Linked DNA regions of Homo sapiens. The protein of the gene in region 4 purifies or fractionates together with the protein of the main gene of each other region. This does not show direct contact. Each region holds a gene or a part of one and is shown on either strand. Other genes may lie near its edges. The genes, in order: PPP1R12B, KIF11, MARF1, PAN2, MYL12B, ARCN1 and POM121C.

Evidence for each region.
Region 1: the proteins of PAN2 (region 4) and PPP1R12B purify together in Homo sapiens (affinity purification with mass spectrometry, with the first as the bait; one large-scale study listed by BioGRID). This does not show direct contact.
Region 2: the proteins of PAN2 (region 4) and KIF11 purify together in Homo sapiens (affinity purification with mass spectrometry, with the first as the bait; one large-scale study listed by BioGRID). This does not show direct contact.
Region 3: the proteins of PAN2 (region 4) and MARF1 purify together in Homo sapiens (affinity purification with mass spectrometry, with the first as the bait; one large-scale study listed by BioGRID). This does not show direct contact.
Region 5: the proteins of PAN2 (region 4) and MYL12B purify together in Homo sapiens (affinity purification with mass spectrometry, with the first as the bait; one large-scale study listed by BioGRID). This does not show direct contact.
Region 6: the proteins of PAN2 (region 4) and ARCN1 purify together in Homo sapiens (affinity purification with mass spectrometry; one large-scale study listed by BioGRID and IntAct). This does not show direct contact.
Region 7: the proteins of PAN2 (region 4) and POM121C purify together in Homo sapiens (affinity purification with mass spectrometry, with the first as the bait; one large-scale study listed by BioGRID). This does not show direct contact.

The regions. Positions count from the first base shown.
Region 1 is NC_000001.11:202,355,199-202,358,698, reverse strand, and holds part of PPP1R12B (protein phosphatase 1 regulatory subunit 12B), read right to left. Parts: intron 1-3,500. UniProt on the Homo sapiens protein: Regulates myosin phosphatase activity. Augments Ca(2+) sensitivity of the contractile apparatus.
Region 2 is NC_000010.11:92,596,130-92,599,629, reverse strand, and holds part of KIF11 (kinesin-like protein KIF11), read right to left. Parts: intron 2,772-3,500; exon of another isoform or gene 2,341-2,771; intron 1-2,340. UniProt on the Homo sapiens protein: Motor protein required for establishing a bipolar spindle and thus contributing to chromosome congression during mitosis. Required in non-mitotic cells for transport of secretory proteins from the Golgi complex to the cell surface.
Region 3 is NC_000016.10:15,633,155-15,636,654, forward strand, and holds part of MARF1 (meiosis regulator and mRNA stability factor 1), read right to left. Parts: intron 3,189-3,500; coding exon 2,502-3,188; exon of another isoform or gene 2,352-2,501; intron 1,778-2,351; coding exon 1,603-1,777; intron 1,106-1,602; exon of another isoform or gene 856-1,105; intron 690-855; coding exon 463-689; intron 1-462.
Region 4 is NC_000012.12:56,327,501-56,331,000, forward strand, and holds part of PAN2 (PAN2-PAN3 deadenylation complex catalytic subunit PAN2), read right to left. Parts: intron 1,142-3,500; coding exon 972-1,141; intron 859-971; coding exon 738-858; intron 573-737; coding exon 495-572; intron 132-494; coding exon 1-131. UniProt on the Homo sapiens protein: Catalytic subunit of the poly(A)-nuclease (PAN) deadenylation complex, one of two cytoplasmic mRNA deadenylases involved in general and miRNA-mediated mRNA turnover.
Region 5 is NC_000018.10:3,272,133-3,275,546, forward strand, and holds part of MYL12B (myosin regulatory light chain 12B), read left to right. Parts: intron 1-751; 5' UTR 752-766; coding exon 767-950; intron 951-3,414. UniProt on the Homo sapiens protein: Myosin regulatory subunit that plays an important role in regulation of both smooth muscle and nonmuscle cell contractile activity via its phosphorylation. Phosphorylation triggers actin polymerization in vascular smooth muscle.
Region 6 is NC_000011.10:118,575,409-118,578,908, reverse strand, and holds part of ARCN1 (coatomer subunit delta), read right to left. Parts: exon of another isoform or gene 2,011-3,500; intron 1-2,010. UniProt on the Homo sapiens protein: Component of the coatomer, a cytosolic protein complex that binds to dilysine motifs and reversibly associates with Golgi non-clathrin-coated vesicles, which further mediate biosynthetic protein transport from the ER, via the Golgi up to the trans Golgi network.
Region 7 is NC_000007.14:75,437,800-75,441,299, forward strand, and holds part of POM121C (nuclear envelope pore membrane protein POM 121C), read right to left. Parts: intron 3,317-3,500; coding exon 3,155-3,316; intron 1,426-3,154; coding exon 1,345-1,425; intron 1-1,344. UniProt on the Homo sapiens protein: Essential component of the nuclear pore complex (NPC). The repeat-containing domain may be involved in anchoring components of the pore complex to the pore membrane. When overexpressed in cells induces the formation of cytoplasmic annulate lamellae (AL).

The DNA.
Region 1 (3,500 bases), on a different chromosome or scaffold from region 4:
TTTTTTTTTTTTTTTTTGAGACGGAGTCTCGCTCTGTCACCCAGGCTGGAGTGCAGTGGTGCCACCTTGGCTCACTGCAACCTCCACCTCCCGGGTTCAAGTGATTCTCCTGCCTCAGTCTCCCGAGTAGCTGGGACAACAGGCGCGTGCGACCACGCCCGGCTAATTTTTTGTATATTTAGTAGAGACAGGGTTTCACCGTGTTAGCCAGGATGGTCTCAATCTCCTGACCTCGTGATCTGCCTGCCTTGGCCTCCCAAAGTGCTGGGATTACAGGCGTGAGCCACCGCGCCTGGGCAAAGCTTCAGTTTTTCAATTGAATTGCCTCATGAAACAAACATAAACTCTGCATGCCTGATAAAACTTTAAGCCCCCAAATTTTACTCAAACTGGTTACAATCTAAGATCAGAAGAAACAATTTTTTTAAATGACACTTCAAAAGCAGGAAAAACCCCAACATATTCACAGACAAAAACAACATCAACAAATTGGGCAAGCACTCAATTAGCAATCCAAATGAGGCTTCAATTCCTTGTCCTATATGACATTCTGGGCCAAGGTCTTAATCTGGATTTATTATTACTATGTTGAACCATTAAAGATTTATTAGACATCCCAAACCTCCATATTTCACCATCTTAGAGAAGATATATATGTAATTCTCCTCCATAAGCATAAAATAGTCTCAAATACTGATAAATATAGTACTCCCCTGACACTCCTCAAGAGCCAGAATGCTAGAACAGAAATCGGTTATGTAGCCAATTTCCTATTATAAGTTATAATAGTAACCAACTATTCTGGAGACCAATCCCAAAATTCAAGTTAGTTTCTAAATTGTATCTACTGCTAAGTAAAAGTAACAAGCAGCACAGAATCAGATACACAGTAGACACTCAAGAAATAAATGTAAGAGAATGGCAGAAAAAACTGTTTATTGGTACTAACCTCCCTATCACTGTTCCCCCAAGGCTGCCTTCCAGTGGAAGTGCTAATGAGTGGGAAATGGGCCAAACTAGACTGAGAAGTAAAATAAACTAGATAAGCAGCCATCAGTAATAGGGACATAACTTTCTTGCCCCTATTATCAGGTTTAATATCCTAAAATATTCTTAACTGATGAATAATGAAACCACCTGAACTAGCCAGAATTCAGCTTTTAAAGTGTCTTGCCACATATTTTGGGCCCTCATTTAAATTACAATTATATTGATGGAAAATCTATATTTTTTCTCCCAAAAGTCAACAGAAAGACAAGTTATCCTTAATGCAAAAAAAAACTTCATATAACCTCCACAAAAGTCTTCAAAAATATCTCTACTGAAAGTGCTCTTTCAAAGTTTAAATGACCAAATCCAACAGTCTTTTTACAGGCCTTCTCCTCAATTTCCTTTTACATTATTTACCATCCATTCCTTGAAATACCTCAATATCACTGTTTGTCGGTTCTTCTCTGTATTAGTTTCCTATTGCTGCTATAACAAATTACCATAAACTTAGTTGCTTAAAACAACACAAATTTATTATCATAGCATTCTGGAGGTCAGAAGTCTGAATCATGGCCAGATGCAGTGGCTCACAACTGTAATCCCCAGTGGCTCACACCTGTAATCCTTGGGAGGCCAAGGCGGGTGGATCACCTGAAGTCAGGAGTTTGAGACCAGCCTGGCCAACAAGGCAAAACCACGTCTCTACTAAAAATACAAAAATTAGCTGGTTGTGGTGGTGGGCGCCTGTAATCCCAGCTAATAAGGAGGCTGAGGCAGGAGAATCGCTTGATCCCGGGCAGCGGAGGTTGTAGTGAGCCAAGATTGTGCCACTGCACTCCAGCCTAGGGGTCAAGAGCAAAATTCAGTCTCAAAAAAAAAAAAAAAAAGTCTGAAATCAGTCTCATTGGGCTGAGTTGTCAAATTGCTGGCAGGGCTGGTTCCTTATGTGGAGGCTCTGAGAGAAGAATCCACTTCCTTGCCTTTTTCAGCTTCTAGGGTCCACCTGCATTCCTTGGCTCACAGAACCTTCCTGGAATCCCTGCAATCTCTTGCTTCCTTCATCACATCTCCTATTCTGATTCTGCTCTCTTGCCTGTCTTATATGGATGCTTGTGATTATATTGGGCTCACCTGGATAATCCAGGCTAATCTCCTTATCTCAAGATCCTTAAATTAATCATATCCCCAAAGTCTCTTTTACCCTGTAAGGTAACATATTTACATGTTCTGGGGATTAGGACTTAGACATTTTTGGGGCACCATTAGTCAGCCTACCACATCTTCCAACAGCTCTAACTTGAATTTCTGCATTCTCTGCCTACCAGCTGCTTGTGTTTTCTGCTCTTCTCTGTATGTTTTCTCCCTTTCCTCTTTCACACTCATTACTTCAACTCTCACCTTTATGCTAAAATCAAGTCTCTTGTCTCAAATATGAGAAAACTGGAGCATAGATAGGAAAGTGACTAGCCTTGAGTCACATAGATACCTACAGGATATTTACTTACTTACTTACTTATTTATTTGAGACACAGTCTTGCTCTGCTCTGTCACCCAGGCTGGAGTGCAGTGGTGTGAACACAGCTCACTGCAGCTTCAACCTCCTGGGCTCAAGTGATCCTTCCACCTCAGCCTCCTATGTAACTGGGACCACATGTTTGCACCACCATACCTGGCTAATTTTTTTTTGGGTGGGGAGGGGGTTGGAGAGATAGGGTCTCACCACATTGCTCAGGCTGGTCTCAAACTCCTGGTCTCCAGCAATCCTCCCGCCTTGGCCTCCCAAAGTGCTGGGATTACAGATATGGGCCACCATGCTAAACACCTATAGGAGATTTCTATTTGTACGTCTTCAGAGTACCTCAGTCTAATCGTTGACTGAATACTATTTCTACCTGAATAACACAATTCTTTCAGACTCACAAGCTAGAATTGTACTACACTTTTTTCTCATCTCCATTCACTCAGCTGGTTCTCTCAACTCTGTCTCTCCATTCATTCAGAAATCCAAGTGCTGCTTCAGAATCCTAAAATACTGCTTTGGTTGGGTAACGACCCTGCTCAAACCCACAAAAATTCTCTACTAAGGAGTCCATCAAGCCACCTTGGCCTGATGTTTGATGTTCAAAGCCCTCTAGGATGTCACCCTGACTCTCTCTCATCTCTAACCCTTCAAACACATCCATTAGGATTTCCTAGCATCCTCTGCCTACACACCACACCCATTCCTATTTATTCGCCCATGCTGCTCTACCATCCTGGACTGCCTTCGTTTGTCCTTCCACTTAGGAATACATCCTTTCCAGGGTATCATAGAATTTGGAACTCTAAAAGGAATCTTTTTTTTATTTATCTGTTTCCAAACCTGACTGTTAGTTCCTTGAGGGCAGAAATTATACCACATATATACTCTAGTACAGACTTACAATCTACCATTTAGACATTCAATATTAGTTGTTAATTAAGAATCTAAGAAAACCTCTAAAGAGAAAAATATAGTGGAACACGGCCAG
Region 2 (3,500 bases), on a different chromosome or scaffold from region 4:
CAAAAAAAAACTGTTAGAACTAATAAGTGAATTCAGCAAAGTAGCTGGATAGAAAGTCAACAAGCAAAATCCAGCGACGTTTCTTTTTTCTTTTTTTTTTTTTTTGAGACAGAGTCTCACTCTGTTGCCCAGGCTGGAGTACAGTGGCACGATCTTGGCTCACCACAACCTCCACCTTCCAGGTTCAAGCGATTCTCCTGCCTCAGCCTCCTAAGTAGCTGGGACTACAGGCACGCGCCACGATGCATGGCTAATTTTTGTATTTTTAGTAGAGACAGGGTTTCACTATGTTGGCCAGGCTGGCCTTGAACTCCTGATCTCGTGATCAGGAGTTGGGAGGCCCACCTTGCCTCCCAAAGTGCTGGGATAACAGGTGAGAGCCACTGCGTCCAGCCTCCAGTTACATTTTTATACACTAAGAATGAACAATCTAAAAAGGAAATTACAAAAACAACTCAATTTAAAATAGCACCAAAAAGAATAAAATATTAGTAATTAATTTAACCAAGGAGGTGAAAGACTTATAAAATGAAAACTATAAAACACTGCTGAGGCCAGGCGCAGTGGCTCACGCCTATAATCCCAGCACTTTGGGAGGCCAAGGTGGGTGGATCACCTGAGGTCAAGAGTTCGTGACCAGCCTGACCAACATGGTGAAACTTTGTCTCTAGTAAAAATACAAAAATTAGCTGGTCGTGGTGCCACATACCTGTAATCCCAGCTACTCAGGAGGCTGAGGCAGGAGAATCACTTGAACTCGGGAGGTGGAGGTTGCAATGAGCTAAGATTGTGCCACTGCACTCCAGCCTGGACAACAAGAGCGAAACTCCATCTCAAAACAAAAACAAACAAAAAAAAACTGCTGGCAGAAATTAAGGGGCATAAATAAATGGAAACACATCCCTTGTTCATGAACTGAAAGACTTAATATTGTTAAGATGCCAATACTACCCAAAGTGATCTATAGATTCAATGTAATCCCTATTAAAATCCCAATGACGTGTTTTACAAAAATAGAAAAATTCATCCTCAAATTCATATGGAATCCCAAGGGAGTCCAGATAGCCAAAACAATCTTGAAAAAGAACAAAGCTGGAGGACTCACACTTCCTGATTTCAAAACTTACTACAAAGCTGCAATAATCAAAACCATGTGGTACTGACATAAAGACAGACTTATAGACCAATGGAACATAACAGCACTTAGAAATAAGCCCTCTTACATATGAGCAAATGATTTTTAATAAGGTTGCCAAGACCATTCAATCAGAAAAAGACAAGCTTTTCACCAAATGGTGCTGGGAAACTAAATATCCATATGCAAAAGAATGAGGTTGGACCCTTATCTAACACAATATACAAATATTAACTCAAAATGGATCAAAAATGTATGTAAGACCTAAAGCTATAAAACTCTTAGAAGAAAACATAAGGCAAAAGCTTCACAACAATGGATTTGGCAATGATTTCTTGGATATAACACCAAAGATACAGGGAACAAAAACAAAAAGACAAACTGGACTTCATAAAAATTTAAAATGTTTGTGTATCAAAAGACAGCATCCCTGTGATCCCAGCTACCTGGAAGGCTGAGGTAGGAGGACTATTTGAGTCCAGGAGTTCACAACAAGTCTGGGCAATAAAGCAAGATACTATATTTAAAGGGGAGAAAAAAAAAATAGCCCAGGCACGGGCTCACGCCTGTAATCCCAGTACTTTGGGAGGCCAGGGTGGACGGATCACCTGAGATCAGGAGATCAAGACCAGCCTGACCAACATGGTGAAACCCCATCTCTACTAAAAATACAAAATTAGCCAGGCGTGGTGGCGCATGCCTGTAATCCCAGCTACTCTAGAGGCTGAGGCAGGAAAATGGCTTGAACCCAGGAGGCGGAGGTTGCAGTAAGCCAAGATCGTACCAATGCACTCCAGCCTAGGCAACGAGAGCAAAATTCCGTCTCAAAAAACAAACAAACAAACAAACAAACAAACCCAAGGGAAAAAAAAAGACTTTATCTTCCTTTTCTCCATCATAGTGCAAGATCAAGGTAAAAAAAAGAGAACTCTGGCCAGATGAGGGCTCACACTCATAATCCCAGCACTTTGGGAGGCCAAAATGGGTGGATCACTTGAGGCCAGTAGTTCAAGACCAGCCTGGCCAACAAGGCGAAACCCCATCTCTACTAAAAATACAAAAAATTAGCCAGGCATGGTGGTGCACACCTGTAATCCCAGATACTTGGGAGGCTGAAGCATAAGAATTGCTTGAACCTGACAGGCAGAGGTTACAGTGAGCCGAGACTGTGCCACTGCACTCCAGCCTGGGTGACAGAACGATTTTCTGTCTCAACATCTGTATGGAGGAGACTGGAGATGACTGACCCCAGCAGCCAAGGTGTTGGAGCAGCTCATAGGCCAGACCCCTGTGTTCTCCAAAGTCAAATACATTGTCAGATCCTTTGGCATCAGGAGAAGTGAAGATTGCCACCCACTGCACAAAGGGCCAAAGCAGAAGAAACCCTGAAGAAAGGTCTAAAGATGCAGGAGTGTGAATCAAGAAAGAACAACTTCTCAGATACTGGAAACTTTGGTTTGGAGATCCAGGAACACACAGATTTGGGTATCAAATGTGACCCATGCATTGGTATCTACAGCCTGGACTTCTGTATGGTGCTGGGTAGGCCTGGTTTCAGCACTGCAGACACATAGCACAGAACAGGCTGCACTGGGGCCAAACACAGAATCAACAAAGAGGCCATGCACTGGTTCCAAAAAGAAAAAGAAAGGAAAAGACCACACGGTATCAATGAGTAAAAAGGCAAACCACAGTAATGGGGAAAAAATTTTTGCCGTTTATGTATCTGAAAATATCCAAAATATATAGAAAATTCCTAAAACTCAACAACAAAAAAGCAAACCAATTTAAAAATGGGCAAAGGACTTAAACAGACATTTCTCCAAAGATACACAAAATGGCCAGTAAACACATGAAAAGATGCTCAACATCATTAATCATTAGGGAAATACAAATCAAAACTACAATGAGATAGCACCTCACACCCAATGGATGGCTACTTGAAAAAAAAAAAAGAAACAGAAAATAAACGTTGGTGAGGATGTGGAGAAATTGGAACCCTTATGCACTGTTGGTAGGAATGTAAAATGGTCCAGCCACTGTGGAAAATAGTTTGTCGGTTCCTCAAAAACTTTAAAATAGAATTATCATATGATCCAGCAATTACAATTCTGGGTAAATACCCAAAAGAATTGAAAACCCATATTCATAGCAACATTATTCATAATAGCTAAAAGTAAGAAGTAACTCAAGGCCGGGCTCCGTAGCTCACGCCTGTAATCCCGGCTCTTAGGGAGGCCAAGGCGGGCAGATCACAAGGTCAGGAGATGGAGACCATCCTGGCTAATATGGTGAAACCCCGTCTCTACTAAAAATACAAAAAATTAGCCGGGAGAGATGGCAGGCGCCTGTAGTCCCAGCTCCT
Region 3 (3,500 bases), on a different chromosome or scaffold from region 4:
TTCTAAAAAAAAAAAAAACACCACACACACACACACACACACACACACACACGTACAGCACTTTTAGAGGCCAAGGCAAGAGGACTGCTTGATCCCAGGAGTTTGAGACAAGCCTCCACCACCTAACCCTGGATCCTGAAAGCCATCCAGGGGTGTCCAAGGGACAGAATACAGTCATGGGTTCTTAGTTTCTGTTTCTGGTTGGAACATAGGGAGACCTCGTCTCTACAAAAAATAAAAAATGAGCCGAGCATGATGGCGTGCATCTGTGATCCTGGCTAGTTGGGAGGCTGAGGTGGGAGGATCACTGGGGTCCCAGGGTTCGAGGCTGCAGGGAGCCATGAATGCGTCACTGCACTCCAGCCTGGGTGACACTTAGACTCTGTCTCAAAACAAACAAACAAACAAATATCTGCTTATTCCTCTACTGTAGATTAAAATTATTAAATTTTTTTTTTTTACCTGGCAATTATTCAGCTCTTGAATAACTTCCTTGTTTTCTTTACTGATGTCACATACACAGATGAATTCTGCTTCTCTGTGGCCTTTAAAAAACTTCTCACGGATTCTTTGCACAACAGCAGTTGCTGACCGGCCAGAGGGAACGGAGCAGTTTTCAATATCCCAAAAAACTCCAATGGGGGGTAAGTTTTCTAGCACCTGTCCAGCTACTGCAACTTCTGGTGACCCTTAAGAAATGTTAACATTTTCAATTACTTGTAGTGGAAAATAAATGGCAAGTTACAATAAGATAATAAACTACCTATCATTCTCAGTGGTAGAAAAACTAAATTATTAATGAATGCCAAGTTTTAAGGCTACCAACCTCACTGGTTGACCTAATAAGCAATCAAGCTGTCAAAAAGTATCACTCTAAGAGATTATTTCTGTTTTTCAGGAGAAGACAAATCTAAAAGTCAAGTAACTTTAAGCCCACAATAAATCCACCTCCAAGCATGAGCCACTCTGACATTAAGCAGTGATGCTTCTCTGAACACAAGCACACTAACTGACCGGATACTGCAGCTCCAGGACCCGACTTTCAAGCTTAGCCCACACTTATCTACCTACTTGGTAGTAACCAACACTGAGGAGCTGACAAAGGGTGAAGCTGTTACTGTCGTTGATTTTGAGTTAACGCTGCATTAACATCTGATTTAATATTTTAAAAATGTTTTCAAAACGTCGCATTAACTACTTTTTAGGGAAATTATTTTAACTGAGAACTCTTTGGTTTTCAAATACTGTTTTTAATCAGCCATTAGTAAATTGTTCTAAGCACTTCTAGGGAGTATACCATCAACAAGTGTGATTTCCAACCTAAGGTGACACCAAGTCTTTTCCAGCACTTTTATTTCTCCTGATATACTACCAATTTTTCTATACACAGCTTCTGTGTATAGCCTCGGCCCAACATAAAGGGCAAATGACTTCCTGGTCCATAATAATAAAAAGATTTCTACCAAGATATGGAATTGGAGACTCACATACACAGTAGCTTTAGAACCATAAGGAATCCTTCAAAGGTGATTAAATGCAATGTTAGTATGAGATATTGAAAGCTATTTAAATATGCACATTTTATGCCATACTGTCATTTACCAAATTTTGAAGCAGCTTTGCCTAGACTGGTCGCCAATAACAACGTGGTCTCCTTCCCTGTTCCTTTGGTTCCACAGCCATTACACAGAGGGACAGCAAGAGGTGCAGGTTGAGTATTTGGAGGTGGTATATTTGGCCAGACTTTAGCCGCATCGATTATGCTATTTCTTGCTGGCTGTTTTAAATTTTTTTTAAAAAGGAGGAGGTGTCAGATACATCATTTCAGAAGCTGGAGTTATATACAACAACTGAAAATACACTCTAAGTGTTTTACCTTTCCACTTGCTAGCCTCTAATAAAAAGGACTTTCAAATAATCTTTCCAAGAACCATTAGCTATCAGTTCATAAATTCATTTCCAGAAGTGACTTGACATGATCAAGAAAGATATTCACGTGGTCAGATCTTTACATTCTGGGGCATGAGTCTGCTGCAACGAAGACCTCACACATATTTTACATAAAGGGTAGCAAAGTCTCACTTGAACACCAATGTGACTGAGGCCAAGCTTCAGGTTTCCCACATTATTGCAAAAAGACAACATGCAGTTATCTACCTTACATGAATGGGCCCATGTGTAAGCTGAATGTAAGTTATAAAAAATCCATCGTGCTTTAGCCTTTAAACATAGAACACGAAGGCTTTGCCAACCTCTTGTTTGCAACAAGAGGCTCTAAAAGTATAAACTACAAAAATAATGACTCTCTACTTTTTTGAATGATCTCCCATCTTACCCTTTGTTTCTTTCAGAACCAGCAAAAATTATGCTGATGGGGAGATTCCCCTATACCATGGGAGAATCTTCAACCCCATGTATAATACTTTTCAAGATAAATCCACTTCAAAAGTCATTCCTCAATCCTCAGCTGCACCCAACTTAAGAAATAAAAAGATACGAACCTTGTTTAGACAGTCTTCGCAGTAAAGTGAGCCCTTTAAACAAACCGGAGGTACCACATTAAGGTGCAAAGAGTTGGTGCACAAGTGAGGCGTTAGCTCCGACTGTGAAATGTGCTCTTCCAAATGCCCTGGAGCCCCGCTTGTGAAATCAGAACAGGGGAAATAGCCAGCGGAGGTGCAGCCCTGCAGACTCGGAAACTGATGCAGCTTGTGCACATTACCATGACATGACTGGAAGTGGAGTTTTCCACAACAGGGCAGGTGTTTGCAGGAAGACAGGTTACTCTCTAGACACATGCTGGGAAAGTCACTTGCAATGCCTGCCAAATTGTTCCTAGCTGAGGCATTCTGGAGTGAAGATGCAGACTGGAAAGCAAACCCTGACCCTACCTGACACGTGATTGTCCTGGTGCTTTGCGAGTCTAACAGTGCGCCCGGGTGAATCAAGCTACTGGTACCTCCGCTACCGCCACCACCACCACCAAAACGCATTGGCGAAGTGGAGGGTTCATTAGGGCAATGAGCACAGCAGCTTACTTTGGGGACAGAAGAAAGCTGTATTTTAGGCTGCTGAAGAGAACGAATATCAGGAAGTGGGACTGCTGGAAAAAGCTTAGAGCCAGCATGAAGGGGTGATGGTACATCCTTTAGTTCCACAGCAACTTTCTTGTTCTCCATGTACTCTTTCTGAGAAAAGAAAATCAGAACATAAATTAATTTTATGAGGTCCGTGGTTTTTTGGTTACTCATATCTTACTGCATGCACAAACAGAAATAGTGTTCAATTCTGTTACATCACTAAATCATAACTGAACAAAATGGAATCACAGCTAGTTAAAACCAGGAACATTCTTCAGAGAGGTCTGCAGGACATGAACACTGGAACACACAACTAAAATTAAGACTACATTCTTCCTGAATTGAAACAGACTGGGGTGGGAGGGCCTGTTTACATCTTTAGCAGCCACCATGCCTCAGTAACTTCCTTTTGGTAATTTC
Region 4 (3,500 bases):
AGGCCAGTGAGGCGGCTGGAGAAGCCACAGGCAGCTAGCAGGTTGCCATGCACATCAAAGTCTGACAGACTTCCTGAGAAGGCATCAAACTCATGTTCCACCTTAAAAGTACGGAGGTCTCTCAGGGAAACCTAGAAAAAAAAAATTCAGTTATCTGCAAATTCTGTTATCAGGAAAAATACCTGCCACCTACCTAACCCAGTGGGGTCCCTACCAAAGGAACTAGGGCTTTAGGACAGGGAAAGTTAAAGCACAGAAAAGGCAAACAGAGAAGCCCAGAGCCAGAAGGGGCTTCAGGGAGACTTCATTATCATAGAAAACATCAAGCTGCAAAATAATCTCATAGTAGAACATCACTGAGTAGGAAGTGAATTCACTCCACTCATCCCTCACCTCCAATCCAACTACACCCCAGAGTTAAGGGAAAGCAGATCGCAATCAGGTATCTAGTGAAACAGGGCCCTGCAGTGGGAGGAGAAATGGAACTTGGCCACCTTGCCAGACGTGTGGCCGCAGAAGAAGAAGCGATTTGTCTGTCTCATGATGGTGACTCCAGGCGTCTCTACTGCATACTGGAGAGGGAAGCAGGAAAAACCAGTGAGAAGAATGATTTTTCCCACAGACCAAGGGAACAGAAAGGTCACACCCACATCTCAGGCACATTACCAGCCCAAGCATACCCTGCCCCCGCAACAACCTCAGACCCCACATAGGTCTTTCTTGCCCCAAGCTTGTACCTTCTGAGTCTCCTGGACAGTGTTAAGATCAATCTCTATTATGTGATTCTGCAGCCCACCAACGAGTAGAGTGCTGCTGTCAGTCAGTAGGAGACTGTGCATATCCTCATTCTCATCCAGCCTGGTGGGGAGAGGAAAGGCTAAGGGGCCCAGGCCTTACAAGCTGCCAATCCCTTAGCCTTCCCACCCTATGAGGCATCCTCGTTCCTAGTCCAGAGCTGAGAAGCCACTTACAGGTAATCAAATATAATGAGGCCCCCACGGGCCATATACTTGAGGTTGTTCTTGGTGAGAAAAAGGATACCATTCTCCAGGCTCTGGATCTGCCGAATATCATCACTGCCATTGACTTGAAAGGATGAGTAGCGCTCCAAGGCTGGGCCAAAAAATGAAGTGGCATGGCCCTATAGAGGACAAAGACAACAGAGACACTTAGAGTGGAGGGGCAAGGGCCACCCTACGGCCAGGTCAGGGACTGAACATGGCTCAGCTTGGATCCTTTCTTGCTTGGCCTTTGTGACTAGGAGCAACTGGGGCAAAAGGCTAGGAACCAGTCAATCTTAGTGATAAAGACACTGATAATACTGTCTTATGTTTGTTTAATGTGTTACACAGCATTTTGGTAAACTCTACCTCATTTTGTCCTCACAATGACCCTGCTGAATAGGTAATGGCTCACTTGGTTAGAACAGTATATAGAAGGTCAGGGACATGGTCCAATTCTCTACTGGCCAGCTGGCTTTCTTATGTTTCACATCTGGGAGGATGTGCATAAGGTTATATGCAAATACTATATCATTTTCTATAACGGATTTAGGCATCCTTGAATTTTGGTATCTGGTATCTTTAGATCTTGGAACCAATCCCACATGGATACCAAGAAGATGATGGTAACTACTAAACCTCCTTAAACATCCCATCATAACCTCAAACTCATGACATCCTAAATTAAATTCACCATTTTTATTTCTATTTTTCTTACTGTATTCTCTATGGTACCAAGATCTACCTAGTTGACCAAGCCATATATCTGACAGTCAAGTCCTATGTATTTTTTTCCTAACCACTAGATAACCAAGGATTTTTTAAAATTTTTATTTATGTATTTATTTTTTGAGATGGAGTTTCACTCTTGTTGCCCAGGCTGGAGTGCAATGGCACGATCTCAGCTCACTGCAACCTCTGCCTCCCAGGTTCAAGCAATTCTCCTGCCTCCCAAGTAGCCAGGATTACAGGCATGCACCACCACACCTAGCTAATTTTTTGTATTTTTAGTAGAAAGGGGGTTTCACCATGTTGGCCAGGCTGGTTTCGAACTCCTGACCTCAGGTGATCCACCTGCCTCGGCCTCCCAAAATTCTAGGATTACAGGCATCAGTCACCGCACCTGGCCTATTTTGCTTCCTAAATATTTCCCAAATCTGAGGCTGGGTGCTGTGGCTCACACTGTAATCCCAGCACTTTGGGAGGCCAAGGCAGGTGGATCACTTGAGGCCAGGAGTTTGACACCAGCCTGGCCAACATGGTGAAACGTCATCTCTACTAAAAATACAAAAATTAGCTGAGCATGGTGGCACACACCTGTAGTCCCAGCTACTCAGGAGGCTGAGGCAGGAGGATTACTTTAACCTGGGAGGCAGAGGTTGCAGTGAGCTGAGATGGCACCACTTCACTCCAACCTGGGCAACAGAGTGAGATTCCACCTAAAAAAAAAAAAAAAAAAAAGCCCTTCAGTGGCCTGAAGGTTCAAGTCCAAGGTCCAAGCTCTTTTAACACAGCATATGAAGTTCTCTAGAATGTTCCTTCCCCAGATATCTACATGGCTCCTTCCCTCCCTTCTAGAGGGCCTAGAATAGTAAAGGAGAGGCACAAGGATAAGTTAGAGGCATGGAGCTCTGCCTCTTTGTTCCCCTTTTTGGTGCTGCATCCAAGTCTCTATTCAAATGTTACTTTATCAGAGAGAACTCCTGACCAACTATTTAAAGTAGCAACATTGTTTCTAAAAGAGCCATTAGGAAAAAAGATTAAAATTAAAACAAAACACTACAAAACCAAACAAAATAGCAACATTTCCCACCCTTCATTACCTCAACCCCCTTACTCAACTGTATTTTTCTTTTTTTTTTTTTTTTTTTTTTTTGAGACGGAGTCTCGCTCTGTCGCCCAGGCTGGAGTGCAGTGGCGGGATCTCGGCTCACTGCAAGCTCCGCCTCCCGGGTTCACGCCATTCTCCTGCCTCAGCCTCCCAAGTAGCTGGGACTACAGGCGCCCGCCACTACGCCCGGCTAATTTTTTGTATTTTTAGTAGAGACGGGGTTTCACCGTTTTAGCCGGGATGGTCTCGATCTCCTGACCTCGTGATCCGCCCGCCTCGGCCTCCCAAAGTGCTGGGATTACAGGCGTGAGCCACCGCGCCCGGCCTGTATTTTTCTTTTAATAGAGATGGGGTCTTGCTATGTTGCCCAGACTGGTATTGAACTCTTAGGCTCAAGCAACCCTCCCACCTTGGCTTATCAAAGTGCCGGGATTACAGGTGCCACTGTGCCTGGCCTCATTGTATTTTTCTTTTTCTTTTTTTTGAGACGGAGTCTTGCCCTGTCACCCAGGCAGGAGTGCAGTGGTGTGATCTCAGCTCACTGCAACCTCTGCCTCCCAGGTTCAAGCAATTCTCCTGCTTCAGCCTCCCAAGTAGCTGGGATTATAGGAACCTGCCACCACACCCAGCTAATTTTTATATTTTCAGTAGAGACGGGGGTTTCACCA
Region 5 (3,414 bases), on a different chromosome or scaffold from region 4:
AAGGGTGGGTTTGATATTTATAAAGATGAGACCTTTTTTGAACATGACTAGTCTTTTTACATATGTTATCTCAATTAGTTCTTTGCATTGAAGTAGATATCATGTTTTACTGATGAAAAATTGAGGCTCAGAGAGGTTATGTTATACTGGTAGTAAAATGGGAATAAGAGTACCTACCATAGGCAACTGTTGTGAGGATTAAATGGGGACAGTCTTTGTCAGAGTAAGAAATCAACTTTGGAGACTTTCTCTTTGAGGAAGCCCTATGCCTTCATAACAGTGCTTGGCCAGAGTAAGTACTCCATAGATGCTAGCTATTGTTAGATATTTTAAATTCTCACTTCATAAAAATTGATCCCCTGAAGTTTAGGACAAGGTACATCAATAATTTCTATTGTGTTTCTTTCTTTTTTAGAGATGGGAGTCTCACTATGTTGCCCAGGCAAGTCTCGAACTCCTAGTCTCAAGTGAGCCTCCCACCTTGGCCTCCCAAAGTGTTGGGATTATAGGCATGAGCCACTGGTGTCTGGCAAATTCTGTTCCTTAATGTTTCAAAACTGCTTTTTTTCCACTCAGTCATTTAATTGTCACATTGAAAATAAAGTTTAGGTGCATACTTATTCCTACCCAATTGAAGTAATAATTCCTTATTGATATTTTTACCTACAGACTTTAGGTATTATGTATTCTGTTTTTGCTTTGTTTTATACATTGTTTTGTTTTACGTTTTTGTGTTTTTTTTTTAATCCAGAATTAAACAACCACCATGTCGAGCAAAAAGGCAAAGACCAAGACCACCAAGAAGCGCCCTCAGCGTGCAACATCCAATGTGTTTGCCATGTTTGACCAGTCACAGATTCAGGAGTTCAAAGAGGCCTTCAACATGATTGATCAGAACAGAGATGGCTTCATCGACAAGGAAGATTTGCATGATATGCTTGCTTCTCTAGGTAGACTTTATATTCTTTATTTGTATTTTCCCTAAAATAATAATTTGTCTCTTTATGAATCTTTTTTTTGTGCGATGTACAAATATTTCTCTCCTTGTCTCAAAAGGCCTCTGGAGAGATTTCTGGGTGTGGGAGGTGCTATTTTGGGGCTTGGCCAGTCATATGGAGATAAGCCTACAAGGTTGGGGACCTGGCAGATGCTGTGCCCGGGTAGGCTAATGTTCCTGTTAGCTAAATTTTTTAGGTCTCTAGATGGAAAGCCAGGGCATGGCTAGGCAGCAAAATACCAGAGTTTCAAACAAGTGTAGCTAAATAATATACTTAATAAAGGTTGAGTACAGGTTATAAACAAGGAGTGACAGTAAGTGATGATGGTTATCTCTGGGAAGGAGGGGCAGTGCGACTGGAAAAGGGAACACAGTGAAGAAGACTTTCACAATATTTTGTATGATTTTTTTAATAACTAAAATGTAAAGATACAGGATTTAAAGCACACATAAACAGCCATTTGTATGTTGGTATATGGGTGTTAATATTCCTTGTATGATTTTGTTATTGTTTCTTAACATGCATCCTACATGTTCTGGCCAGAGTCAGCAGTTAATTTACAGTTGGGAGTCAAGGAACTGCAGGCAAAGGAGACCTTGATAGGCCAAAGCGGAGGGGGTGAGGCAGGCTGGGAGTGGGTCAGGGATGGCCTACAGTGAGACTTTGCGCTCTGTCCTCCTGCTTGGCTGACTGGCCAAAAAGGCAAAGAAAGAGGTGGGGGTTTTTTTTTTCTCTCTTTTAATGCCTACAAAATGATCAGCTAGCTTTTATTCTTCTAACTTTTGATTTTGATTATTTCTCCTAACACATTGAAAGTAAAGTTTAGGTGTGTACTTATTCCTATCCAACATATGATTTTGAAAACTTTTAAGCCTACAAAAAGTGGAAAGAACATTATAGTGAACACCTATACATCTTTAGCTATATTCACTGATTGTTAACATTTTGTAACTTTTCTTTATCTAGGGTGAGAGTAGAATCAAAGATTTTTATCTGATTTGTTGACTTGTAGTTAGATTATAACCTAGTGTTTCTCACATTCAGAATGTCTGAGTATGTTCTTGGGCAAGTCAGTACTGAAGAAGGCCTCTGAGGAAAATTGAGGAATGTAGCCATCTTCCAAAGATTGAACTCTCAAGTCTATACTCTGCTTATAATAGATGCTCAATAGATATTTGTTGAACGAACAAGTCATGGTAGAGTCAGAGGTTGTCTTTGAGACCTTCTGTTTTGCAGAAACCCATCCTTTTAAAGATACGTGTTAAAAGAACAATTTCAGCCTAATTAAATTTAATGGAGTTTAATTGAGCAATGAACAATTTGCGAATCAGGTAACCCCAGAATCACAGCAGATTCACAGAGACTCCAGTGCAGCCACGTGGTAGAAGAAGATTTATAGACAAAAAAAGGGAAATGACGTACAGGAATTGGAAGTGAGGTATGGAATGGCTTGATTGATTACAGCTCGGCATATGCCTTATTTGAACATGGTTTGAACACTCAGCAGTGTATGAATGGTTGAAGTATGGCTGCTGAGATTGGCCAAGGCTTAGCAGTTGTTACAGGCTCATACTCCTAAGTTAGGTTTTCAGTCTTGTCTGACTATTAAGCTAGGTTATAATTCATTCACAAGGACTCAACTGTAGAAGTACGGAGTCTTTCTCAGGCCATATTTAGTTTGCTTTAACATATGTATTTACCTTTTAGGGGAACCTTCATACATTATTGGTAGGAATGTAAATAAGTACAGCCACTGTGAAGGACATTATGGAGGTTCCTCAGAGAACTAAAAATAGGAGCTCTCCCATATGATCCAGCAATCCCACTGCTAGGTATATACCCCCAAAAAAGGAAATCAGTAGTATCATTGAAGAGGTATCTGCACTCCCATGTTTATTCCAGCACTATTCACAGCAGCCATGATTTGAAAACACCGTAAGTGTCCGTCACCAGATGAACGGATTTTAAAAATGTGGTACTTATGTACAATGGAATACTGTTCGACCATAAAAAATGAGATCCTGTCATTGCAGCAACATGGATGGAATGGAAGACATTATGTTAAGTGAAATAAGCCAGGCACAGAAAGACAAACTTCACATGTTCTCACACACTTGTGGGAGCTAAAAGTTAAAATAATTGAACTCATGGAGATGGAAAGTAGAAGGATGGTTATCAGAGACTGGGAAGGGCAGGGAGAAGAGTGGGAACTGTTAATAGATACAAAAGTATAGATAGAATGAATAAGATCTAGTATTGGATAGAATAACAAGGTGACTGCAGTCAGCAGTAATTTGTTGTACATTTTAAAATAACTCAGTATAGTTGGAATGTTGGTAACACAAAGAAATGATAAATGCTTGAAGGGATGGCTATGCCATTTACCTTGATGTGATTATTTTGCATTATATGCCTG
Region 6 (3,500 bases), on a different chromosome or scaffold from region 4:
TTAAAAAAAAAAAAAAAAAAAAAAAAAAAAAAAAGAGAGACGGGGTTTTGCCATGTTGCCCAGGCTACAAATTCCTGGGCTAAAGTGATCCGCACACCTCAGCCTCCCAAAGTGCTGGGATTACAAGTGTGAGCCACAGCATCCGGCCAAGGCAATGGATTTTTGCCTTTGTCAATATTTTGATATTCAAATAATGAATATTGACTCTCCCCCCAAAATTTTACATACAGTTTCAGGGAATGCATCGATCCTCTAGAGAAGTTATTTCAAATGGCCCATAGAAAATCCCCTCATGCGATGAGAAATATTATTAATAAATGGGAGCATATTGTAAATGTAATCCCTGTAGAGCCTCCTATCCCTAAAAGGTTGAGAGTCATAGCTCTAGGAAGTCATGGTCCTCTATGTTAGAATTTTATGAGGTTTTGAAGAAATAAGACAAATCAAATGAACACCTAAAGAAAGGACAGCTCAGACCAAAACTTCAGACCTATATAAACATGCTGCATTTAATAGAAACCCCATATCTAATAATAAACCTGTTAGAAACAATGTTTACAGGCTCAAGGGTAGTTCTTAGGTTTCCAACTGGAGTTAAAAACACCTCTATACCATACAAGTAAAATTTAGGTAAAAACATCAAAAGCAACTTGAGAGGGAAAAAGGAACAAAAAGGTGTATGTTACTATCCACTTTATTTATTTATTTATTTATTTATTTATTTATTTATTTATTTATTTATTTTTTGAGAGAGTGTCTCACTCTGTAGTCCAGGCTGGAGTGCAGTGGTGCCATCTTGGCTCACTGCAAGCTCTGCCTCCTGAGTTCAAGCAATTCTCATGCCTCAGCCTCCTGAGTAACTGGGACTACAGGCACAGGCCAGCACCACCAAGCCTGGCTAATTTTTCTATTTTTAATAGAGACAGGGTTTTGCCATGTTGGGCAGGCTGGTCTCCAACTCCTGGCCTCAAGTCATCTGCGCGCCTTGGCCTCCAAAGTGTTGGGATTACAGGAGTGAGCCACTGCACCTGGCCCATCCACTTTACTGATGAGCATGTTCAAAAACTAATTATAGGTACTGGTAATCTCCATTTTTGCGATATTATAAGAATTAACTGAGTAATTATTTATCGAACATCTACTATACATACAACATGCTTTCTGAGAATTAAGATGACACAGGCTAGCATTCTGCCTACAAGAAGCTTAATAGGGATAAGACACAAACACAAATAACTGTAATATGAGGCAGAATGTGTTAAGTAACATGAGAGAGTAACCGATAAAGTGCGTGGAAATTCAGAGGAAGAGATTACTTCCAGCTGGTACAGTCAGGGATGACTTGATAGAAGAAACAGCATTTAGGCCGGGAGCGGTGGCTCATGCCTTAATCCAGCACTTTGGGAGCCAGGGCAGGCAGATCACCTGAGGTCAGGAGTTCGAGACCAGCCTGGTCAACATGGGAAAACCCTGTCTCTACCAAAAAATACAAAAAATTAGCCAAGTCTGGTGGTGCACGTCTGTAGTCCCAGCTACGGGGAGAGTGAGGTGGGAGGATTGCTTGAACCTGGGAGGCGGAAGTTGCAGTAAGCCAAGATCATACCACTTCACTCCAGCCTGGGCTACAAAGTGAGACTCTGCCTCAAAAAAAAAAAAGAAAGAAAGAAAGAAAGAAACAGAATTTAGATCATGCTTTGATGAATTCCAGGATTTGTTTGTTTTGAAACAGAGTCTTGCTCTATTGCCCAAGCTGTAGTGCAGTGGCGTGATCTTGGCTCAGTGCAGCCTCAACCTTCTGGGCTCAGGTGATTCTCCCACCTCAGCCTCCCAAGTATCTGGGACTACAGGCACAGGCCACCACACCTGGCTAATTTTTTGTATTTTTCTGTAGAGACAGGGTTTTGCCATGTTGCCCAGGCTGGTCTCAAACTCCCAACCTCAAGTGATCTGCCCGCCTGAGCCTCCCAAAGTGCTGGGATTACAGGCATGAGCCGCCACACCTGGCCAGAATTCCAGGCTTTCAGTACGTCAAGATGAAGAAAGAAGTAGGGTAAAATCATATGTCTCTCTTTGAGTCATTCCATTATCCAGATACAAGCAAAACAAGGCTTCCAAAATAGGACCATAGTTCCCCATACTAAGTATAGCATAAATCTCCGAACACCCAGGACACCACAAATTACAGGTTCCAGGCAGTTGACACAGGTCTCTCTGTTACAGCTACTAATATGGCTAGAAGGTATGGTCACCTCTAAACATGATAAATTTATCCTATCCTAAATTAACATTTGTCTTCTTAAAGTTCTTGAAATAATAAACCTCTTTACATTAATGTTTACTGGTTTAACAATTATTAAAATATAGCATATACTAAAAGGTAAGTTAACAATTTTCCCTATTGAAATTTGATCTGATTTTCTCTGAGGAAGAATTAATAAATATGATTACAAAGTTTTTGGTTTTTTTTTTTTTTTTTTTTTTTAACATTTTTGGAAAAAACATTCCAGATCTAAAAGGAACTTGCAAGAGCCCTTGATTGTCTTACAGATGTGAAAACTGAGGGCCCATAAGTTAGATGATCTCTCCAGGACGGTTAAAAAAAAAAAAAATTCCCTCATAAAGTTGAGCTTTGCCAAACAACTTTTAATAATTCTTACATGGTTTGAGTACACTATCTTTGGACTAAATAACAACTCTCTCCTACACAGACTTAACTACATGAATTGTTAAGTGCCTCAAGTAAAAAAACCTGGAGAATTAGGTTTCTGTTCTGCCTTTGCCACTAATTATGTGACCTTGGATAAGTCACTTAATTGATTATTGAAATATCCCTAACATAGGAGGTTAGTTTACATGAAATCCAAAGTGCTCTGTGTCTTTAAAGTTCTGTAAGTCTAAGCATTTGAAAACTACAGTAACAGAAAAAAAAAAAAACAACTACAGTGACAGAAAATGTACAATACTTCCATTTTATACCCACTGCTCCAGTTCTAACCACTTTGGAACAATATTTTATAGTAACATTAGGCTGCCAGAAGGCAAATTGTCTAACCATAACAAATTGTGTGTGCAAGAGAGATACAAGAATAACAGGTGGTATAATAATTCAGGATAAATATGCACAACTCTCTCTCAAAAAAAGTCAAGTTCTTTCTTGAATCTCTAAATGCTTCAGGATCCCTTACTTCCAGAATTATAGTCACCTTCTCCTTTGTAATTCACCGCAATATTTTATACACATATACATGCACACACAATTCATGGTCATATTAAGGCTAGTTTCTATAATTGTCAGGGAGGACTGTTCTGTCTTTTCTATTTATATGAAGCTATTATAGATAAAATCAGAGAGAAGATTACAATAAAATGTAGACCACATACGAAACCTAAAACTTGAAAAGTAATTTACTCAGTGAGGGTTTTAAGTCCATCACATTTCTATTCTAAAACAAAAGCTTGCAGAGAATTAAAACACACACACACACACACACACACACCCG
Region 7 (3,500 bases), on a different chromosome or scaffold from region 4:
AATTTTTACTGCTAACAATCTGGCCAAATCTATCTGACAAAGTCAGTAAGAAAAGCCAAATATTTAAAACTTAAATGTATGATTTATAGAATATTCTGGAAAATGCATACCTATCTACAGTGACAGAAGACAGATCAGTGGATGCCTGGGGACACGGGTGGAACTAAAGAGAGGGATTACAGGCATGTGGGAACTTTTGGAGGTCATGGATGTTCATTATCTTAGTGGTGGGATGGTTCCACAGGTGTATGCGTGTCAAAATGTCACATGCTTTAAACAAGTACAGTTATGTCAATTATACCTCAACAAAGCTGTTAAAAAAAAATCAGAGTTAAGAGGAACCCATCATTTTTCTAAACCTCCAATGGAAACAGAAATCTCCTATGCATCTTTCCTGTAGGACAGTCATCCAACCTGTTACAATATAGACAACGCTCTCCTAGAGTGACCCACGTCAACCATGAACCAGTTTATTCTCACAGTGGATTACAATGTATTTCCTCTAACTTTCACCCACGGATCCTATTTGAAGTCAAACAGAGCAAGTTATTTCGCTTCTTTCAAGGGACAGTCCTTTGGTTTTTTGGAGACCATTGTCCTTCCCTCACTTATTTCTTTATTCCTCCTGAGATTTTTCTCCTCTGGGTTAATACTTCCATACCTCCAAAACCCCATCATCCACCACCACCCCTCTGGGCTGTTGCAAATCTCCTTAACATCTTCGTTGCTTCACTGGGAATGAATTTCCGTTTGTGTACATCCTCCCTCGCAGTGCAGTACGCTGATCTGACCACAGTGCTCCACGGACAGTGAGCAGAACTACGGAAGGCAGGAATACCTGCCTCATTCTAGTCTTTCTTCTAACAGCACAGACCAGGAGCACTTTAGCTTTCCTGGTGGCCACATCACACTGCTGACTCAGATGAGGTATCTAAGTTATCCTAAGTCTTTCCACACAGACTTTTGAGCCACTTTCCTTTCCACCCAATTCTTCCTCCAATTTGTTTTTAAACTGACATGTAGAAATTAAACATTTAAGTTTCATACTGTCTTATCCGCTGCACAAACTTTGCAATCCTTCTGTGTATGTGCTTGGTTATTAAATATATTTATAAAACCTCTAGTCTCAGCATATTTCATCCATATTAATGCAAGAACATTAAAAGGAATTAGACAGAAGGCAGTTAATTGTGACAAGTTACTCAGAATATTCCTAATTTCAAAGACATGAACCTGAACTAATTAAGCAATGCAAAAAACAAAGAGGAAAATCTATAGGGCAACAGCTCTGATCAGGCCTTTTTCCAAACAGTTGGTATTTCATCTGGATGGACTCGCACTTACTTAGGCACAAAAGAAGCGGGGACTCCACTGGCCACCAGGGGCTCAAATGCTGAATGTCCACTGCCACTGCTATCATGGCGCCTGCGACAAATCAAAAAAGTCTCAAATGAAATGACATGACTTTGTTTGTCCCTTTAAAGTGTATTCTCACATTTCTGGGACCTTATACTATCTCTATGGAGCACAGATTCCATGCTAGACCAGAAAATGGTTGTTTAAAATCCCTAAGTTTCTGAAAGGTAAATTTTTTTTTTTCAGACAGAGTTTCACTCTTGTTGCCCAGGCTGGAGTGCAATAGCACAATCTTGGCTCACTGCAACAAACCTCTGCCTCCCGGGTTCAACCAATTCTCCTGCCTCAGCCTCCAGCGCAGCTGGGACTACAAGTATGCACCACCACACCTGGCTAATTTCTTAATTTTTTGTACAGGCGAGGGCTCCCTATGTTGCCCAGGCTGGTCTTGAGCTCCTGGGTTCCAGCGATCCTCCCACCTTGGCCTGTCAAAGTGTTAGGAGTACAGGCATGCACCACCATACCCAGCCTTATAAAATGGTGTTTCCCTCAAGAGTCCCATGAGAGCAGAGATTTTGTCTTGTCCACTGCTCTATCCACAGTACTTGCAGTAGGGTCTCATACACAGTGGGTGCTCAGTAAATGCTCACCCACTTCAACTTCTTTTCTTTCTGTAATTAGAAAACTATTCCATTTTCATTAGGTTATTTTACAAACCACATAAGGAATTTTTTTTTTTTTTTTTGAGACAGTCTCGCTCTGTCACCCAGGCTAGAGTGCACTGGCATGGTCTCGGCTCGCTGCAACCTCCGCCTCCTGGGTTCAAGCAGTTCTCCTGTCTCAGCCTCTGGAGTAGCTGGGACTACAGGCACCCACCACCACATCCAGCTAATTTTTGTATTTTTAGTAGAGACGGGGTTTCACCATGTTGGCCAGGCTGGTCTCGAACTCCTGACCTCAGGTGATCCACCCGCCTCGGCCTCTCAAGGTGCTGGGATTATAGGCGTGAGCCACCTTGCCCTGCCAGGAAATTGGTTTTAATCTCATTATTGATAAAACTACCAAACTCTAGTTTTCATTTTTCTTTCCCAAGCATTTCCTTCAGCACAATTAAGACACTAGAACTGGTGGGCCGGGCGCCATGGCTCAAGCCTGTAATCCCAGCACTTTGGGAGGCCAAGGTGGGCGGATCACGAGGTCAGGAGTTTGAGACCATCCTGGCCAATATGGTGAGACCCTGTCTCTACTAAAAATACAAAAAAATTAGCTGGGCATGGTGGCGGGCGCCTGTAGTCCCAGCTACTCGGGGGGCTGAGGCAGGAGAATGGCATGAACCTGGGAGGCTGAGCTTGCAGTGAGCTGAGATCGGGCCACTGCACTCCAGCCTGGGGGACAGAGACAGACTCCAACTCAAAAAAAAAAAAAAAAAGACACTAGAACTGGTGGTTACCCAAATAACTGAACACCACAAAATTCCGACCGGAAGACTTAGAGCCTTCTTTCTTGAAAATAAACTTTTAACACGTTTCTACAGAAGCATGAGGCTAACATGGCTAATAGCTGTCAGCTTATCTCTGCTACTCACAGAAAAGGTAAATTATGACATCGATCTAACCTGTGCCTTGAAATGAACAGCATTAAAACCCTTGTTATTAGGTTCTCTCATGAAAGCCAAAGAAGGAGGCCTATGAAGGCTCACAAACTGGACGTGGCCTCTGTATCTTTACGGGAATGTCTACATCTCATCCCATAGGGGTCCAAGCGGGAAACTGGCTTAGTACTCTCCTGAGCCTGTTACCTTCTTTTATTTTCCTGGCCATCAAGGAATATTTGGTCTTCTTCCTCCACTGTCCTTTTCTTCTTCTTCTCTTTGAGGGCACTCAGTACAGTCTCCTTTGCACATGGGTCTGGGGCATTACTTGATGGTGACGACAGTGTTGAGCTGATTATCTGCTCTGGTCTATAATGAAAGACAAGATTCTAGCCGTAAGATATTTTAATTCCCATGCCACATCAGAAACGGAAATCAGAAGCTAACCAACAGGCCAAAGTATAATTTATACACTCACAACAGTTCCCCTTAGCAAGTAAAGCTACTTTTTCGTTAACGGCAAAAAGTGAAAAACAAACGGTTTTACTAGAAT